Homo sapiens: one gene and its partners. The protein of the gene in region 1 purifies or fractionates together with the protein of each later gene. This does not show direct contact. Each region holds a gene or a part of one and is shown on either strand. Other genes may lie near its edges.

Region 1 (4,049 bases):
TGAAACTTAGATACTTACAAAACAATTTGAGTGCAAAATCTTTCTAGATTTTTATGACTTCTCCACAATCTTTTATAATCATTTTGCCACACCACAGTAATACTTTTGACACCTATATCTATTCTTTTTAACATTCAGTGTAGTGTCACTTATCTTTTTAGGACTCATTTCATTGACTGACTTAATATTTAAATTAGATAATATCAGTCATCAGTGATTGATGGCAGAAATAGGTTTGTGAACCTTGAAAAACAAGATTCATTACAGTGGTGGAGGCAGAAGTAGCTGAGTGCATTGGGTGAGCTATGGGCACCAGTCAGAGAGAATAAAAAGCTTCTGTTGTTTGCATGTGAAGGGGAGATGGGTTAAGGAAGTTTCCACTGTACTTCACAGTAGCTCTTGTGGTGGCGGGATGATTGAAATAGAATCCAGAATCATGATCAGCATCATCTGCCATTTTAAAGGGCAGAAGCTAGATAACCAACCTTAGGCCAGTTTTAGTTTAAAAAGTGTTCATAACCCCGACCTGCTCTCATGAAGACCTATCCCATAATTTTAGAAAAATAAACTGATAGATTTTAAAGACAACTTAGTACACAAACTGCAATCAAGACCTTGCTGTAGAAAGTGGAGAAAAAAGACAGTTATAAGGAATCTTTCCTTCTCTCAAAATTATGACTGCTCTTTATCCCTAGCCAAAATTTCTATTTTTTTTTTCAAGGGAGCTGGTCTCAGCTATGTGTTAGCAGAAAAGTAGTTTCAATGAAAAACTATTTTCACTGATACATAAATCTTAAAATCTTTAAAAAGTAGAAACAGTGTGCTGGTCTTGTAATTTATTTGAAGCTAACATTTCTTAAAAATTTTTTACCTTTATATGATGATAATGTCAACCTTCAGAAGAGAGTAACATCTTCCATTTGAATACCTATCTTGTTTATAAATTGGGGGGGCTGATTTATTCATTTATTTCAAAAAGGATAGTAATTGTAACTTATTTGTTTCTTATTAGGAGACTTAGCTAGTAAATGTTTTCTATTCACATAAGAAGTCTATGCCTTCTTTCCCTACATATCATCTGTTAAGTTTTTACTATAGTCAGTACAAATCAGCCAAAAGAGACATTGCCATTGAAAGTATTTGGAGCTGAAAGCAGGCTAAACAATGAAATTTCTGGCAGCCTAATTTAAGGTATGCCTTAGTAATAACTTAGTAACAGTTGAACTTCAAGGAAATCTCTGAAATCTAAACTTTCTTCTTCTAGGTCACCATCACGCCCAGCTCCATGAGGAAAATCTGCACATACTTCCATAGAAAGTCCCAGGAGGACTTCTGTGGTCCTGAACACTCAACAGAATTATAGATTCTAATCTGAGTGAGTTACTGAGCTTTGGTCCACTAAAACAAGCTGAGCTTTGGTCCACTAAAACAAGATGAAAAATACAAGAGTGACTCTATAACTCTGGTCTTTAAGAAAGCTGCCTTTTCATTTTTAGACAAAATCTTTTCAACGCTGAAATGTACCTAATCTGGTTCTACTACCATAATGTATATGCAGCTTCCCGAGGATGAATGCTGTGTTTAAATTTCATAAAGTAAATTTGTCACTCTAGCATTTTGAATGAATAGTCTTCACTTTTTAAATTATTCATCTTCTCTATAATAATGACATCCCAGTTCATGGAGGCAAAAAACAAGTTTCTTGTTATCCTGAAACTTTCTATGCTCAGTGGAAAGTATCTGCCAGCCACAGCATGAGGCCTGTGAAGGCTGACTGAGAAATCCTCTGCTGAAGACCCCTGGTTCTGTTCTGCCTCCAACATGTATAATTTTATTTGAAATACATAATCTTTTCACTATGCTTTTGTGGGGTTTTTTTTAAGTATGTGTAAAAATGTGATGCTCAGATAAGTACATTTATATCAGTTCAGTGTTAAAATGCAGTCTCTTGAGTTAAAGTCATCTTTATTTTAAATGCAGTGATAAATGTCAACTCTTCGGAGAAACTAGGAGAACAACAACAGAAAGCTGTGTTTGTCTTTTTTCTCTCAAATATATCTCCCGTATGAGATTTCAGGTCCCCATGTTTTCACCAAGCAATCTGCTATGTCAGCCAACCCAACATCACTTTCTACAGGAGGTTATGATTTTTGCCATTTACTAGAGGAAGATGTTTTATGAAATCAATTTGGGGTTTGAATTCAGGTGCAGTCATCAGTTCTTTAGGGGCTGCAATGTTTTAAAAAAAATAAGTCATCAGATTTTAAGAAAAAAGTGATGATTTCTTATTGATATTTTTGTAACAGAATATAGCTCTTAACTGAAAATCCAGAACCAGAAACATAAATCTTGAGTTTCTTTTCATGTACATAAAAAGCAATAGCCTTTTAGTATAGATAGCCCTGAGCCAAAAAGTAATAGAATTTTCTCTAGATATTTAATACAGAGAGTGTATAGACTGACTCTAAGTTAATAATGTGCAAAATATCTTAAACATCCCTCCCCTTATTCAACAATTATGTATCAGTGATCTTGAACCATTGTTTTATATTTTTCACCTTTGTAACCTCATGGAAAGAGGCTTTACATACTTTCTATGTACTATTTACTTAGAAGGGAGCCCCCTTCCAGTCATGAAACTTCATTTGTTTTATCCATATCCCTGAGGACTGTGTAGACTTTATGTCAGTTTTTGTCATTATTTGAAAATCTATTCTGACAACTTTTTAATTCCTTTGATCTTATAAGTTAAAGCTGTAACAACTGAAATTGCATGGATCAAGTAAGCATAGTTTTATCCAGGGAGAAAAATAAAAGGAAGCCATAGAATTGCTCTGGTCAAAACCAAGCACACCATAGCCTTAACTGAATATTTAGGAAATCTGCCTAATCTGCTTATATTTGGTGTTTGTTTTTTGACTGTTGGGCTTTGGGAAGATGTTATTTATGACCAATATCTGCCAGTAACGCTGTTTATCTCACTTGCTTTGAAAGCCAATGGGGGAAAAAAATCCATGAAAAAAAAAAGATTGATAAAGTAGATGATTTTGTTTGTATCCCTACCCATCTCCTGGCAGCCCTACTGAGTGAAATTGGGATACATTTGGCTGTCAGAAATTATACCGAGTCTACTGGGTATAACATGTCTCACTTGGAAAGCTAGTACTTTTAAATGGGTGCCAAAGGTCAACTGTAATGAGATAATTATCCCTGCCTGTGTCCATGTCAGACTTTGAGCTGATCCTGAATAATAAAGCCTTTTACCTTATCTGATGTCCTTTTCTGAGCTTTTTGCATTACCTAGAAGCAGTCTACAAAAAAGAACTATAGTAGTCAAGAATCCCTTCTACTTGTTCATTAAAATGTTTATTCCCAAAGTTATAATCTATTTCAAGCTGAAAGAGCTTTTAATAAAAAACATCTTGCTTGGATCAGACTTTGAGCATTTAAGATGGCTTGGATTACTTGATAAAGCAGGGTGGAGTGATGTAGTTCTTTTTCTAAACAAGTATTTCCAGCACAAACTTTTCCATTTGAATACATTCCAAGCACTATTGCTAGGATCCCGTATTAGAGTTTGCTTTTGGCTGTTTCAACACGGGCCCTTAATTAAATTTTGTGAGGATGACTGATTAGTGTCTTCAAATGTCTCTTCATCTGGACTGCACATTTAACTGATGTTGGATCAAGACCATGTGTAGCTACTCTTGTGTTGAGGGTCAGCCCATTATCCCCATCCCCAGCCCTAACAGCTTAAAACAGCTTTAACTCCCATCTTGAAATTAGCCTATGGCCATGTTCATAACATAGGTAGTGTGTGGGTTCAACAAATGCTTTTTGAGAGCCTGTCATAGCCAACACACTACTGCTCTTAAGTCTGTTTTTCTGCTTTTCCTAGTCCCTAGTTCCTTTTACATTGCTCTTAAAGCAAAGGCCAAGTAGTCTAACAGAGAAAAATAAATTCCACAACTAAGATAGTGTGGGCAACATTTTACAAATGTGTGTCAGAAGACAGACTGAGTGAAAACATTGTACTAGAAAAACTGAGT
Region 2 (3,500 bases), on another chromosome or scaffold:
GATCACGAGGTCAGGAGTTCAAGGCCAGCCTGACCAATATGGTGAAACCCTGTCTCTACTAAAATAAAAAAATTAGCCAGGCATAGAGGCACATGCCTGCAGTCCCAGCTACTAGGGAGGCTGAGGCAGGAGAATAGCTTGAACCCGGGAGGTGGAGGTTGCAGTAAGCCGAGATCATGCCACTGCACTCCAGCCTGGGCAACAGAGTGAGACTCCATCTCAAAAAAAAAAAAAAGGTAGAATACTGTATAGTTATAATCTAGTCACCACGTATTTTTCCTAAATGAAAAAACTGGATAAAACAGTATGTAAAACACTATTAAAATATATTTCTATACACATATATCAAAATACTAATAGCAATTATCTGTGGGTAGTCAGATTATAGGTGGCTTTCATTTTCTTCTTCATCTCAGTGGTCACATTTTATGCCAGGAGTGCATAACTAAAGACCTCACATAACTCAAAACTCACATGAAACAAGATTAATCCTAACAGAAAAATTAATCCTATTTACCTGCAAAAGTGGTGCCACCATGTGGCAAGAACACAGAGTTTATAATTCACTTGGCCCCAGCTTTGAAAATAATTCTATACTTTATTGATTTGGGGGCAAAGGAGAATGGGAGGAGAAATTTATGCAAATTTATTCCTTGCATATATTAATATTCTGTACTTTTTTCCATTCACAATTCAAATTTACATTGCTTGCTATGCATAGCACTATACTGTTGAATTTTCCAATTTTTTGCCAAGTGTAACTATTATATCGATTACTTTCATAATCAGAATGAATCATTTTTTGAAAGAAAAAGTTCCCATTTATCCAAAGTCTACATTTAGTCACTTTAACTCGTTTAGAAAACCAATGACATTTTTATCTCTTTGGTTTCCTCACAGATGAGGATAACACTATAGTACTATAAAATGATAATTATGACCACTGCAAAAAACAGTATCTAATTTTATATTTGTTTCAGCTACCACTGAAAATAAATCAATTGCCCTGTGCTAGGGAAAAAATGCTAGGTAAAGAATAAGACCAAAGCAATCAAGAAAGCCCAGCTTTTTCAAACTACCAAATTATCAAGGGACCTTGAAATGCAAAATTCAACATCTACATATGAAGGCTTTTTTACAAACTGGCCGCTTTTTCAAGGAGCATCATTGCCAAGTAATTTCATAAATAATGCACAAAAAAGGCAAGATGTCTGAAGCAGTGTCTGCCTCACTATTGCAAATATTAATGAAGAACAAAAAAAGAATCCCCCGTTCACCTGGCAAACGAGTAGAAAAGCAGATGAAGTTATTTTTTGTTTTGTTTTGTTTTGTTTTGTTTTTGAGATGGAGTCTCGCTCTGTCACCCTGGCTGGAGTGCAGTGGTGTGATCTTGGCTCACTGCAAGCTCCGCCTCCCAGGTTCACACCATTCTCCTGCCTCAGCCTCCCAAGTAGCTGGGACTACAGGCGCCTGCCACCACACCTGGCTAATTTTTTATATTTTTAGTAGAGACGTGGTTTCACCATGTTAGCCAGGATGGTCTTGATCTCCTGACCTTGTGATCCGCCTGCCTCAGCCTCCCAAAGTGCTGGGATTACAGGTGTGAGCCACCGCGCCTGGCCAAAGATATTTTTAAGTCCTTCACAGTTGGTACCGTTTTATACTTGCCAACTGGAAGAGGAAGTGTTTTCAATACAATAAGCAATAGTCTCATACCTTTCATCCTTCTCGTGCAATATACTTAGGAGAAATGTTTCATAAAGAACTATAAATTTTAAAAAACATATACATCAAGAGGTAAGATTGGTTGAGTAAGAGTTATAAACCATCTTTTTTTTTTTTTGAGACAGAGTCTTACTCTGTCACCCAGGCTGGAGTGCAGTGGTGCAATCTCGGCTCACTGCAACCTCCACATCCCGGGTTCAAATGATTCTTGTGCTTCAGCCTCCCCAGTAGCTGGGATTACAGGCACATGAGACCACACCGGCTAATTTTTGTATTTTTAGTAGAAACAAGGTTTCACCATGTTGGCCAGGCTGATCTCAAGCTCCCGACCTCAGGTGATCTGCCCACCTCAGCCTCCCAATGTGCTGGGATTACAGGCGTGAGCTACCACGCCCTGCCATCTTAATTTTTTAAAATTGTTTTTCTACCTCATTTTCTCTAGTATCTCAAACCCAACAATCCTTGAACCCACTGTGCCCTCCAAACCACTTATCCCTTACATGTCACTGCCTTTCTCCATAAAGGCCTCACTTCCCTCTTTACCTAGCCTAACTCCTATGGTCACTCATTGTAATAACTTATCATCATTGAACCGCATAGGTACTCATCTCCCTTGTCCCTCTCTTGCTGTCATACTTGTTAGGCAAAAATTGCAACTGTGGTTAAACCTAATTGTTTGCTCACTCCTTTCCCGTACTCATGTAGCTGAAATGTGATGGGAAAAAGCACCAAATCAAATTTTTTTTAGAGATGGGGTCTTAGTGTGTTGCCCAGTCTGGGCTCAAATTTCTGGGCTCACAAGATCCTCCCACCTCCGCTGGGACTGAGGCTTGTAGCCAGGACTACAAGCATGAAGCCACTGTGCCCAGTATGACTGATCTAATTTTAATCATTATGATCTTCAACAAGTCCTTAATGCTGCCAAGTTTACATGCTGAGTCCATTCATTGTCCCACTCTCCTAAGGGGATTACTTCTCACATTATTGTCTCTCCTCAACCTCACACTGCAACCCCATCCACCGTTCCAGCTGATGTCTCTGATTTCAACTTCCTTAAGAATATTGAAGCAAGGCTGGGCATGGTGGCTCACACCTGTAATCCCAGCACTTTGGGAGGCCAAGGCAGGTGGATTGCTTGAGCCCTGGAGTTTGAGACCAGCCTGGGCAACATGGTGAAACCCCGTTTCTACTAAAAATACAAAAATTAGCCAGGCGTAGTGGTGTGCACCTGTAGTCCCAACTACTTGGGATGCTAGGAGACGGACACTGAAGTGAGCTGAGATCACACCACTGCACTACAGCTTGGTTGACAGAGCCAGACCCTCTCTCAAAACCAAAAAGCCAACAAAAAAAGAATACTGGAGCAATGCAATGAAAGAGTACTTACACAAATTCCACCACTATATCACTAATATGTCTACAGACATTTTTCTTGTCACAACTAGGAACAGCAGTACTATTGGCATCCAGCAATCAGAGGAGTGGTGCTGCTAAAACCTCCTGCAATACACAGGACAGCCCCCACAACAAAGTATCTAGCCGAAAACGCCAGTAGTGCTGAGGCTGAGAATCTCTGACACAGATGAACTACCCATATTCCTATCTAAAGCCTATCCCTCTGCTAGATTCCTTCCTCTCTTGTCTACTCCTGCAAGAATCCTCTCCCCAATTCCCCTATATCAAATTTTTGCTTTCTACTGGATCATAAAAGAAAAACTAATCCCTTAGCCTAACGTCTGCTGTCATCGTCTACCCTGTTTTTCTTCCTACCTTTT
Region 3 (3,500 bases), about 56 Mb from region 1:
AATTTTTTGTATTTTTAGTACAGACGAGGTTTCACCATGTTGGCCAGGATGGTTTCCATCTCCTGACCTCAAGATCCACCCGCCTAGGCCTCCCAAAGTGCTGGGATGACAGCCATGAGCCACCACGTCTAGCCAGGCCTCTCATATTTGATACTACCTATTTCTTGCCCCCAAGATACCTTATTTTCTTTAGGGTGCTGATCATATCATCCAATGCCTTGCGGTAAGCACTGATCACCACTGTTGGGTGCATCTGCTGCTCCAGGAAGTGCTCAGCTACAGACAGCATTTCCCCTGCTGAAAAAGATACAAGCACCATAGTAATATTTAAAGCATCTGGATATCAAGGCAAGTAACTTAATTATTCTTCCAAAAAATACTCTCCTAAATCAGACTCTCCCAAAAGGTATGACATTTGGCCATTCATACTATTCCAAATTCTACACATTGTATAAGACGGCAATTTATACAGAAAACATCCTTGTTGCCCAGGCTAGGCATGGTGGCTCATACCTGTAATCCCAGAAATTCAAGATCAGCCTGGGCAACACAGTGAGACCCTGTCTTTACAAAAAAATTTAAAATTTAGCTTAGTGTGGTGGTATGAGCCTGCAGTCCCAGCTACTCAGGAGGCTGAGGTTAAGAGGATCACTTGAGCCCAGGAGGTTGAGGGTGCAATGAGCCATGACCGCACCATTGCACTCCAATCTGGGTGACAGAGTGAGACCCTATCTCAAAAAATAAAATGATGAAAGACTGATTCTAGGGCTTACTTATTCTTTTGATTTTTTTTTTTTTTTTTTGAGAAGCAGTCTCGCTGTGTCGCCCAGGCTGGAGTGCGGTGGCGCAATCTCTGCTCACTGCAACCTCCGCCTCCCAGATTCAAGCGATTTTCCCACCTCGGCCTCCCAAGTAGCTGGGATTACATGCATGCATCACCACACCCAGCTAACTTTTGTACTTTATTAGTAGAGACGGGTTTTACTATGTTGGTTGGCCAGGCTGGTCTCGAACTCGTGACCTCAGGTGATCTGTCCACCTCGGCCACCCAAAGTGCTGGGATTACAGGCGTAAGCTACCACGCCTGGCCTTCTCTTGATCTTTCTAAAAAAAAATTTCCCTGAAGGCTCTAAAATAAAGAAAAATGCACAAAAGAAAAACTGACTTGTTTATTAGTACCTTTATACCTTAGGATGTAGTCAAACTGCTTGAACTAAAAACAAAACACACAAAACCCTACCTCTGAAAGAATATTCAGGGCTGGATGCGGTAGCTCACACCTGTAATCCCAGCACTTTGGGAGGCTAGGGTGAGCAGATCACCTGAGCTCTGGAATTTTTAGACCAGCCTGAGAAACATAGCAAAACCCTGTCTCTACGAAAAAATTCAAAAATTAGCCAGGTATGGTGGCATGTGCCTGTAGCTACTTGGGAACCTGGGCTGGGAGGACTCATTGAGCCCAGAAGGTCAAGGCTGCAGTGAGCCGTGATCACACTATTGCACTCCAGCCTGGGCAATAGAGCAAGATTCTGTTTCAAAAAAATAAAAAATTAAAATTAGAAAATGTGCACAATTAAGGCTGGGTGTGGTGGCTCACATCTGTAATCCTAGCACTTTGGGAGGCCAAGGCAGATGGATTACCTGAGGTCAGGAGTTCATGACCAGCCTGGCCAACATGGTGAAACCATCTCTACTAAAAATACAAAAATTAGCCAGGCATGATGGCACATGCCTGTATTCCTAGCTACTCGGGAGGCTGAGGCAGGAGAATCGCTTGAACCAGGGAGGCGGAGGTTGTGGTGAGCCAAGATCGTGCCATTGCACTCCAGCCTAAGCCACAGAGTGAGACTCCATCTCAAAAAAAAAAAAAAAAAGAAAAAGAAAAAAAAAAGAAAATGTACACAATTTACCCTCTGGATAAGGGATTATTGGTAAAACATCTCCTTCTTTTAAAATTTGTCTTTACTTTCTGGCTGGGAATGGTGGCTCACACCTTGTAATCCCAGCACTTTGGGAAGCCGAGGCAGGCAAATCGCTTGAGACCAGGAGTTTTGAGACTAGCCTGGACAACATGGTGAAACTGTCTCTACCAAAAATACAAAAATTAGCCAGGTGTGTTGGTGGGTGTCTGTAATCCCAGCTAGTTGGGAGGCTGAGGCACAAGAATTGCTTGAACCTGAGAGGCAGAGGTTGCAGTGAGTGGAGACTGTGCCCAGGCACCCCAGCCTGGGTGATAGAGTGAGACTCTGTCTCAAAATAAATAAACAAATAAAATTTGTCTTTACTTTCTAATAGACACACACAAAATAACATATACATAGATGCAAACCCACACACAAAAAAGCTTGTTTCTAGAAAAAGTATAAAGAGAGTATTGTAAATATTCTTTTTGTCAAAAGCCTTTTGCACAAATTGCTTGTACTACCTGCTTACTGGCAGGTAAAATAAGCTTTTAAAAATGTACATAGCCTCTCGCCTCTCCCCTCTCCCCTCTCCCTCTCCACGGTCTCCCTCTCCCTCTCTTTCCACGGTCTCCCTCTGATGCCGAGCTGAAGCTGGACTGTACTACTGCCATCTCGGCTCACTGCAACCTCCCTGCCTGATTCTCCTGCCTCAGCCTGCCGAGTGCCTGCGATTGCAGGCGCGCGCCGCCACGCCTGACTGGTTTTCGTATTTTTTTGGTGGAGACGGGGTTTCGCTGTGTTGGCCGGGCTGGTCTCCAGCTCCTAACCGCGAGTGATCCGCCAGCCCCGGCCTCCCGAGGTGCCGGGATTGCAGACGGAGTCTCGTTCACTCAGTGCTCAATGGTGCCCAGGCTGGAGTGCAGTGGCGTGATCTCGGCTCGCTACAACCACCTCCCAGCCGCCTGCCTTGGCCTCCCAAAGAGCCGAGATTGCAGCCTCTGCCCGGCCGCCACCCCGTCTGGGAAGTGAGGAGCGTCTCTGCCTGGCCGCCCATCGTCTGGGATGTGAGGAGCCCCTCTGCCTGGCTGCCCAGTCTGGAAAGTGAGGAGCTTCTCTGCCCGGCCGCCATCCCATCTAGGAAGTGAGGAGCGTCTCTGCCCGGCCGCCCATCGTCTGGGATGTGGGGAGCACCTCTGCCCCACCGCCCCGTCTGGGATGTGAGGAGCGCCTCTGCCCAGCCGCGACCCCGTCTGGGAGGTGAGGAGACCCTCTGCCTGGCAACCGCCCTGTCTGAGAAGTGAGGAGCCCCTCCGTCCGGCAGCCACCCCGTCCGGGAGGGAGGTGGGGGTCCAGCCGCCCCATCTGGCAGGGAGGTGGGGGGGTCAGCCCCCCGCCCAGCCAGCCGCCCCGTCCGGGAGGTGAGGGGCGCCTCTGCCTGGCCACCCCTACTGGGAAGTGAGGAGCCCCTCTGCCCAGCCAGCCGCCCCGTCCGGGAGGGAGGTGGGGGGGGTCAGTCCCCCCGTCCGGGAGGGAGGTAGGGGGGTCAGCCCCCGGCCCGGCCAGCCGCCCCATCCGGGAGGTGAGGGGCGCTTCTGC
Region 4 (3,500 bases), about 51 Mb from region 1:
TAGAATCACCTGGGCTGCTTATTTTTATTTTTTACAGAGACAAGTTCCTACTATGTTACCCAGGCTGGTCTCAAACTTCTGCCTCAAGCAGTCCTCCTGCCTCGGTCTCCCAAAGCGCTAGGAATACAGGCATGAGCTTATTTTTATTTTTTCATTTTTTATTTTTAATATTTTTTTTTTGAGTTGCAGCATCGCTGTGTCGCCCAGGCTGGAGTGCAGTGGTGCAATCTCAGCTCACTGCAAGCTCCGCCTCGCAGGTTCACGCCATTCTCCTGCCTTGCCCTCCCGAGTAGCTAGGACCACAGGCGCCCACCACAACGCCCAGCCAATTTTTCGTATTCTTAGTAGAGATGGGGTTTCACCATGCTAGCCAGGATGGTCTTGACCTCCTGACCTCGTGATCCGCCCGCCTCGGCCTCCCAAAGTGCTGGGATTACAGGTGTGAGTCACTGCAACCTGCCTAGCTTATTTTTAAAATGTCACTTCATGGCACTCCCAAAGGTTCTAATCCAGTGGGTCTGGGAAGCTGCATTTATAAATTAGTCCTTCAGGTGATTTTGATTCATGTATTCGTGAAACACACACTATGAGAAACATTACTCTAACCCCAATCCTCCCACCCCAATTCAGCCAAGTCACAGAGCCCACAGCAGTCAGCAATTCCTCTTGTCTAAGAGTTGCACTTAGCATAGCATAATGAGCATAGGCTATTTTATGCTGCCCTCCTTTTATCTGAGACAGGGTCTCACTCTGTCACCCAGGCTGGAGTGCAGTGAGGTGATCACAGCTCACTGAAGCCTCGACATTTTAGGCTCAGGTGAGTAGCTGGGACTACAGGCACATACCACCATACCCAGCTAATCTTTTGTATTTTTTGTAGTGATATGGTTTCACCATGTTGCCCAGGCTGGTCTCGAACTCCCGGACTCAAAGAGTCCACCTGCCTTGGCCTCCCAAAGTGCTGGGTTTACAGCCACTGTACCCGATCCTATTCAATGATTCTTGCTCACCTGCTCCTTGTTGTTCTCCAAAGCGGGCAGCACCTCTTTGACAGTTCGCTCCACCAGCACTCCTCCAACCATGCGGTAGCACTTACGAGTTTCATCTACCTCCTTCAGTGTATCGATCACTAGGCTGGGATAGGAGAACAAGGCAGGACCTGAGGATTCAGCCCCACTCTACTACAAATCCCCCTCACGGAGTAGCCCACACAACTGTCCTACTGTTTGCCTCTCCCTGACTTTCTCACCTGTGCTCATTCAACTCCATCTCCAACTCAGCTGCTTTGGATGCCAGGCCTCGCTGTTCCTGCCGAAGGCGGTTGAAGCCAGCAATCACCTAACAAGGTGAGAGAAGAGATGAAAGAGGGGATAGTGGAAATGGCAGAGGGTCCAGATAGCACATAGGGTGGCAGGCTTTACAAAGGTGCAGTAGTGGGCACCTACCTTGGAAAAGGAGTAGAACCACAAGTTTGCGATTTCTACCTAAAATTTTTCTGGAATTCCATTCACCAAACACGGAGGGCTTACTATTTTTGAGATATTTGAGGGCCCACTGAGGGATATCACAGAATAGATTTGGCCTCTGGCTTCTCCTGGCTCATAGTTTGGTGGGAAATAGGCATTTAATATAAGAATGGGGGCCAGGTGCGGTGGCTCACACCTGTAATCCCAGCACTTTGGGAGGCCAAGGCAGGCGGATCACAAGGTCAAGAAATTGAGACCATCCTGGCCAACATGGTGAAACTCTGTCGCTACTAAAAATAGAAAAATTAGTTGGGTATGGTGGTGTGCGCCTGTAGTCCCAGCTACTTGGGAGGCTGAGGCAGGAGAATCATTTGAACCCGGGAGGCAGAGGTTGCAGTGAGCCAAGATCGCACCACTGCACTCCAGCCTGGCGACAGAGCGAAACTCCGTCTCAAAAAAAAAAAAAAAAGAATGGGGTTGGAGAGCTACTGGAGTACCTACAGGGGAGCCTAGACTTGCAGTGAGGGCTGTCAGGAAGGGCTTTGTAATGAGTAACTTTTGTTTGGGTCTGCTCAGTATCCCATCCATTGGGGAACTGCCCCTCCTTAACTTGGTGTGGTTCTTTTGGGGCTACTAACCACATGACCCCTGACCCAGGGGCAGTGACCTATGGAATCTCTCTACAGGAATTGGAATTTTGCAGACAAATGGGTATAGAAGACAGCTGGAGTTAAGATTCCTATTGGTTCTGTAGAGATGACCTTCCATTCCTATTCCTAGATTCCCTAAAGCTGCCCCAGTTCTTGAACTTTGTTCAGTCTAGTTATTTAGCCTTCTTTTTCATTCTGTTCAATTCTGTGAAATACCCACTATTATTCAAAAATAGCCCTTTAAAAAAAAAAAGGGCCAGGCGTGGTGGCTCACGCCTGTAATCGCAGCACTTTGGGAGGCCGAGGTGGGCAGATCACCAGGTCAGGAGATCAAGATCATCCTGGCCAACATGGTGAAACCCCATCTCTACTAAAATACAAAAAAATTAGCCGGGCATGGTGGCATGTGCCTGTAGTCCCAGCTACTCAGCAGAGGCAGGGGAATTGCTTGAACCCAGGAGGCGGAGGTTGCAGTGAGCTGAGATCACGCTACCACACTACAGCCTGGCAACAGAGCAAGACTCCGTCTCAAAAAAAAAAAAAAAAAAAAAAAAAAAAAAAGAAAGTTGGTCAAAGTTGGTTTCTGTAGCCTATAAACCCTAACTGATACAGAATTGATACAGGCTTCCTGAGGGATAATGTAATGGTCTTAAATGAAACCTGAAAAATCAGAGTGTGGGGGGAAAAAATGAAAAATATGAGGCTCAGAGACAAAAGACCAGGTTTCAGGTTCTGCCTCTGCTACTTTATTGGCTCTATGGCCTGGCACAGACATTTAACCCTGTGGTTCTTAACCATGGCTATATGTTAGAATCACCTGAATCATTTTAAAAACATGAATACTGGACCCTCAGAACAACTACACAACTACTGGGGGTAAGGCTCAGGCCTCAGTATTTTTAAAAAGATCTCCCACATAATTCTAATGTGTAGTGTGAACTGAGAACCACTGGATTAACCCCTTTAAGCCTTAGTTTTCTTACCTGCAAAATGCAGATAATGATTCCTACTGCATAAGGTTGTTGTATCATGTGAACCAATGAGTGTGAAACATCTTTGTGAACAGTGAAGTACATTAATGCTATCATGGACTTCTCTCCAAGTCCAGAATTGCCCCTTTAGACTCTCCTGGTCATCTGACAACAGTGGACTCAATCCATTCAAACCATTACCAAATACGAGTGTATTTGCAAATATCATCTCCAGTCACACAGCCAGAAACTTTCCCCTAATAAAGATGATTAACCACTTCATCTTTACTAGGGCCCTATCTCTTTTTTTCTTTTTCTTTTTCTTTTTTTTTTTTTTTAAGAAAGGTCACACACTGTCACCCAGGCTGGAGTGCAGTGGCACAATCATAGCTCACTGCAGCCTCAATCTCCCT

The links. The genes of interacting proteins can lie anywhere in the genome.
Region 2: the proteins of DTL (region 1) and COPS4 purify together in Homo sapiens (affinity purification with mass spectrometry; 3 studies listed by BioGRID). This does not show direct contact.
Region 3: the proteins of DTL (region 1) and CCT3 purify together in Homo sapiens (co-immunoprecipitation; 3 studies listed by BioGRID and IntAct, with this or other methods). This does not show direct contact.
Region 4: the proteins of DTL (region 1) and PFDN2 purify together in Homo sapiens (affinity purification with mass spectrometry; 2 studies listed by BioGRID and IntAct, with this or other methods). This does not show direct contact.

What each region holds. Positions count from the first base shown.
Region 1 is NC_000001.11:212,101,578-212,105,626, forward strand, and holds the end of DTL (denticleless protein homolog), read left to right. Parts: intron 1-1,264; coding exon 1,265-1,363; 3' UTR 1,364-3,436; downstream 3,437-4,049. UniProt on the Homo sapiens protein: Substrate-specific adapter of a DCX (DDB1-CUL4-X-box) E3 ubiquitin-protein ligase complex required for cell cycle control, DNA damage response and translesion DNA synthesis.
Region 2 is NC_000004.12:83,052,183-83,055,682, reverse strand, and holds part of COPS4 (COP9 signalosome complex subunit 4), read right to left. Parts: intron 1-3,500. UniProt on the Homo sapiens protein: Component of the COP9 signalosome complex (CSN), a complex involved in various cellular and developmental processes.
Region 3 is NC_000001.11:156,324,793-156,328,292, forward strand, and holds part of CCT3 (T-complex protein 1 subunit gamma), read right to left. Parts: intron 298-3,500; coding exon 180-297; intron 1-179. UniProt on the Homo sapiens protein: Component of the chaperonin-containing T-complex (TRiC), a molecular chaperone complex that assists the folding of actin, tubulin and other proteins upon ATP hydrolysis.
Region 4 is NC_000001.11:161,101,038-161,104,537, forward strand, and holds part of PFDN2 (prefoldin subunit 2), read right to left. Parts: intron 1,339-3,500; coding exon 1,250-1,338; intron 1,135-1,249; coding exon 1,011-1,134; intron 1-1,010. UniProt on the Homo sapiens protein: Binds specifically to cytosolic chaperonin (c-CPN) and transfers target proteins to it. Binds to nascent polypeptide chain and promotes folding in an environment in which there are many competing pathways for nonnative proteins.